2 separate regions of the Homo sapiens genome follow, and region 2 is linked to region 1. The links come from fine-mapping of genetic effects on gene expression. Tissue or cell type: testis. Region 1 holds a variant in brackets; the other region holds the start of a gene. All regions are shown on one strand. Distances are from middle to middle.

Region 1 (2,771 bases):
CTGGGAACATACGCTGGGTCTGAGTTTTAGACTCTATTTGAGAAGCTGTGGGATCACAGACATGTTATTTAACTTTCACTGCCTGATGAATGATGCAAGAAAGTGGGACAGATGTCATCAAGGGCCCTTCTGGGAGTGAAGCATGAATCCCTTATAATAGCACGTTGACCATAGCAGCTCCAATGGAGTCCAGAGAACGTGTAGGCAGCTCTCTCAAGCTGCAAAATCCTGCTTGTGTCTGGAGTTTTCACAGATAGCCAGGGAGACTTTGAAGCTGCTTTGTCTCAGGCATGTGGTGCTTGGTCACAATGCATTGCTTAGCAGTCTACATCCCCTGTACACTGACGCTTTCTTCTCACTTCTCAATTGACATTCTTCTCACTCATGGCTACAACAGTTGGGCTGGAAATCCTGCCCTTCCTTCACAGTATTACCCATGAAAGAGGATAAAACAAGAGCCTTAGCCCCTGTGTTTGCCTCCCGGGAGACGGGGAGACTAGAGTGTTAACAGTTCTCCTTCTACCTACGAACTCCTGGGAGGGGAAAGCCTAGGTACTTTTACCAAGAAGCTAAGAAACTGGAACTGGAAATTTGAAGCTGTTAAAAAAATAATAATTTCAGAGATCCAGGCTACCACTGAAGTTGGAAGACTAGAGTGAACAGTTTTCTCTTGAGAATATAATTTATGGCATTTTGGGATTATGAAAGTCATGATCCAGGAAATAGGAAATGGAGGCAAAGGAAGTAAAATTGATTGATGTAATAAAGCAATAGGCCTTTTCTCTTCTTCATAGTGGTCCCAAGGAGTATTATAGGGTCACTGAATGTGGAGAATTAGGAAAAGGGAGAAGAGACACAAGAGGAGAGAAAAGAGGCCACAGCAACTGTTAGGGACTAGGGCCCATGAAGAGAAACAGGAGCAAACAATATTGAGATGAGAACGGCCAGGCAAGGTTACAAGAGTGAGGTCTGATACTCATTTGTAAATTGTTTCCTCTCCTCTGCTGTGATCTCCCTCTTGAAACTGCTGCCCTCATCAACACTGTGAAGAGGTGAGATGGAGTTGAGGAGGAGCTGTGTCCACATTGAAGAACTCCAGACTCAGGAAGGGTGACAAGCACAGACAATCATGACAATGCTCAGGGGTGGAGCTTGGAGAGGAGATGGTGTACACAATGCAGAGAATGCAGGCATCCCCCTAACAGAGGTATTCTCAGAAGGATTTGGGTGCTGGTGTTGTTTTGGCAGGAAG[G/A]GGATAACGAGAGAACCAGTCAGGATGGGGGATTTTGTCATTGTATTTGGATATTAGAGAAATGTGTGGCCTCAAAGGCGGAAATCTGGAGACGCTTGAGCTAAAATGTAACGCTATAAGCTGGCTCAGATAAGTGTCCACCAAAAAGTAAGGCCAGGCCCTGTCTTGGATCTCAAAGAGGGTGATTGAGTTTCCCAGGGTTTTCTTCCCTCAGGGGAGGTCCAAGTGTTTTAAGAGGGGAAAACCGATGATCTGTACACAGAAACACTCCATTTGTGGGTTGTGGAAGGTGGGTAGACAGCCAGAGGTTCAGGGCATCCTTCCAGGAGTTTACCTTAGGTCTGCAAGGCGAGGCTTATCAAAGAGACTGCCGGCATTTTAAGAGGAATTCCCATCAGAGTGGTGACAAGCACCAGCGGAATGAGGAAGAAAGGAAAAAATCACACTCAGAAACAATAAACAGCAAAAGAAGGAGTTCCAAGGAGAGACAACTGAGTAGTGTTCTCCCTTGGGAAAGGTGAAATATCTGGAAAAATCACTCCTTCATTTAAGACCCTGGGGTCTGTGTTATTCTGGGGAGAGCTACGGAAAAAGTAGACAACTCACTGCTAAGGATGACATCGCTGCATGAGGCTGGAAATGCAGAGGGCAGAGTGAGCCAAATGCATAGAGCTCTTGACCTTGCTTGCATATTCTTTACCTCCCAGCCTTCCTGGGCCATCCTTTCCCTCCTTCCAAATTGCCTATCTTTCTTCCTTTGCTAACTCCGTCTGGAAGCCTCTTCTCCTCATCAGCCCTGTGCAGTGCTGATGGTTAACTTATGCACAAGATGAAATGCTGCTCTTCCTTTAGTGCGCTATGATGGTTATTTTTCACATGTGTTTTCTCTGTGGCTATAATTGCATTGAAATCTGTCTCAGGAGAGGCTTAATGGCTAAGAGCATTGGACATGGGTTAAAATCCTGGCTTGCCTCTTTTTAGTAAATGACAGGGGCAGGTTCACTTAATCTGAAAATGGAGAAAACAGTAATACCCACCTCACTGAACTGTTGTGAAGATTAAATGAAACAGCACATGTAAGGCACTTAGTGGCTGGCATATACTAAAAGCTTAATAACAAAGATCATTCAGTAGAACTCAATAAAAACTCTCACACACTGCTGTTGGGAGTGTACATGACAATGACTGCTTTTGAAAACAATTTAGTGGTATATATTAAAGCTGAACGTATGCATAGATTATGGCCAAACAATTCCACTTCCATATACTCTTAGGCCTTTACTTTCCCAAATGCATACGTATTAGTTATCTAATAATAAATCACTCCAAAACGTAATAGCCAAAACAACATTTATTATAGCAGGTTCTGTGGGTCAGGAGTTCAGGTGTGGCTGAGCTGGGTCTTCTGTCTCAGGGTATTTCACAAGGCTGCAGTCAGCCAGGGCTGTGGTCACCTCAAGGCCTGTTTGGGGGAAAATCCACTTCCAAGCTTACCAATGAAGTTGTTGTCAGGATTCAG
Region 2 (2,771 bases), 22 kb before region 1:
AGTAGATGGTAATGGTTACCTGTCTTAGGACCGCCCAGGAATATGCAATTTATGTAAGAAATCTTATTAATATTGTGTCTTTTTTTCCTGTTACCAACAATTGTCTCATTAAATACAACAAATACTTATTGTTCATCCATGACAATTGATAACTGATCCTTTATTTAAAAACAAATAACCCATTTAATCCCTTCTAGAGCTACAGACTTTACCAAGACACCCTCTGGAAGAAATCTCTCTGCTTTGTTGAGATGACTTTTCCTGTTTTTTTGTTAAACCTAGCTAACATCCCTCCAAGTGAAGACTAAGTTTCTGCCAACCTTCACTCTAAGTAAAGAAACTAAACGCAGAGTACTCTTTCTGGAGAATTCATTAGGTGGAACCATATAAAACTACTGTTTTGGAGATTTTAAAAGTTAAATACTAGTAACTTTATGTGGTTCAATCTAACTTATTATAACTGGAACTTTTTAAAAGTCTAAGTTAATGTGAATTAAAAATTGACTTTTCTTATGCTTAAGGCCTAAATTTACAAATAATAGTTATAAGTAATCATCCCATTAGTTAACCAAATAATAATTAGTAGACTGCTTATATTTATTAGACTGCTTATTAAGAAGCATATTGCAAGGAACATGATTTTTGAACCAGAAGCACTTGTCCTTGATTTCTATCTCTACCACTAATAAGTACACTAATCAGTTTAACTTTGGTTTCCTCTTTTTATAGAACTAAGGATTAAATGACACAATGTCTATATAAGTACTTTATAATCTACAATTGTTACATACATGCTAGTTGGTTTTGTTATCACCTCATTTACTTACTAGAATACCCCATGAGGTATAAAACACATAATATTATTTTTTCTACTGGACACATGAGAAAACAAAGTCAGATGTTAATGCCTTGTCTATTGTCATTGACTTGTTGGAGAGTTGTAATTTCTACCCATGTTTTCTGACTTCAGATATCTCCATTACAAACAGTATTGTAAATACACAAACAGTATATTTACAGGTTGTATCTTAAGAGGCAATATTCTGTATACTATAGAAAAAGAATCTCAAGTTATAATAAATAAAAATAAGAACTTAATTTAAACAATGTTTCAGGTATTGTGTTGAATGCTTCACAACACCCTCATTTGGTTGATACCATTCTTATCTCCAACTTCCAAATTGGAAACCTGAAGCTTAGAGAAGTTTGATGACCTTCCTGAGTCTATCTACATAGTGAGTGGAGGGTTGGAACTCAAGCCCGATTTGAGCAGATTCTGAAACCTGCTTTTAATGGCTACTTGATGAAAACATATATTGCTTTTATAATCCGAAGAACCACCCCAAAGAAAATTCCACTGCAATGCTAACATGGGAAGGGAAATAATTGAAAAACACATTTCTTAATGCAGATGGCAAAAGAATGGAACCCTAAGTAAGTGGGCTGTGACATACCTGAGCCTGTTCCCACTGTAGCTCACTCATGCCTCCCGCCTCCTGAGGCAGCGGCAGGGCCAGGCTGCCAGGCAGCAGGCACACAGCACACAGCACGGTGAGTCGCATAGCTGCCGTCCAGAGACAATTGTTCTTGGACCTATGGTTGATTTGGTGTTTTCTGCTAGTGACTGCAGAAATTTATATAGCTTCTCAGCCTCGAATGTGGAAATAGGTGACTCATTTGAGTGTTTTCTTTCTTTTTAGAGTCTACAGAACTTTGAAAGTATGTGTTATTTTTCATTAACTAAAACGAGGAAGTATTACATCGTTATTGGCAGGAAGCACACAATGTATTTGTCTTTCAAAGGATTTTTTTTTCTGTCTGCTGCATAAATTGACTCCATGAGAAACCTCATTTTTTTGCCAAAGTCAAATGACTGCTCTCATAGGTATCATTCAGGACATTATGGTACCATATATTCTTAAAGAATAATATATATTCTTAAATATATATTCTTATTATATGGTACCATGTATTCTTAAATACATGGTACCATATATTCTTAACAATTAAAAGGTTTGGAAAAGTGCACAAAACATGTAAATAATGAAATAATAATTAAGCAAATACTGTAACCGTCACCAAAGTCAAGAAATAGAACATCACCAAAATCCTGTGGTTCTCCATACAGGGGAAAGATGGCAGGAGGCAGATGGAAATGCTGCTGTGTGGCTGGATTAGTGGCCACTCTATATACAACTGTGCTGTGTCCCCTCACCTTCCACGTCCCTTAGCAGAGCAGTGATAATTCCCTTCTTTGGGTCTCCTTTTAATCAGTTTATGTCTTTTCTTAATGGGGAACACTGCCTCTAATTCTTCTTGAATTAAACACAAAAAAATACCAAGCCAACAAAAATCTACAAGCACGGGTTTAACTCTTCATCTGGCTTACTTATTCTGCTTCTCATTTTATAGTAACAGATTCTTCCAAGGCTAGACCTTCAACTTGGAGATCCAATTTTTTTCTTCCAATCACTCTGACTCTGGCTGCTGCCCAGCTACAGGTAGGGCTGCATTGGTCCTTAGTACACAAAATGGTTATTCTACGTATAGCAGTAAGAATCCATTACCTACAGATTCTAGCCCAATGACTCCATTCTTACCAAAAATGAAAGTGAGGCCAAGATGATAATTTAACTTATTATACTTCTCCCAGCTCACACAGATAGTAGCTCAGTGCTTTTTCTATCCCACTGCACTGCCTATTCATTTTGTAATAGGTCTGTCTCTTTTATTATATTATACATTACTTGGGAGAACACCATGGCTTTTGA

Direction of the effects. Positions count from the first base shown, and alleles are read on the strand shown. Sizes are in standard deviations (SD) of each study's normalised expression.
With allele G in place of A in region 1, the expression in testis of the gene that starts at base 1,609 in region 2 is lower (small effect, 0.36 SD a copy in GTEx).

The links. PIP is the estimated chance that this variant, and not a neighbour inherited with it, causes the effect.
Region 2: it holds the start of MMP7, and the variant in region 1 is fine-mapped to the expression of MMP7 in testis (GTEx, PIP 0.91).

The regions. Positions count from the first base shown.
Region 1 is chr11:102,551,090-102,553,860 of GRCh38, forward strand. No RefSeq gene overlaps it. Among named protein-coding and RNA genes, the nearest start is that of MMP7, 22 kb to the left of the region's middle. RefSeq lists an enhancer at 247-296. The variant G/A (reference allele first, on the strand shown) is at 1,253.
Region 2 is chr11:102,529,139-102,531,909 of GRCh38, forward strand. MMP7 (matrix metallopeptidase 7) reads right to left here and starts at 1,609. Exons shown (of 6, transcript NM_002423.5): 1 at 1,455-1,609. The coding sequence starts at 1,562.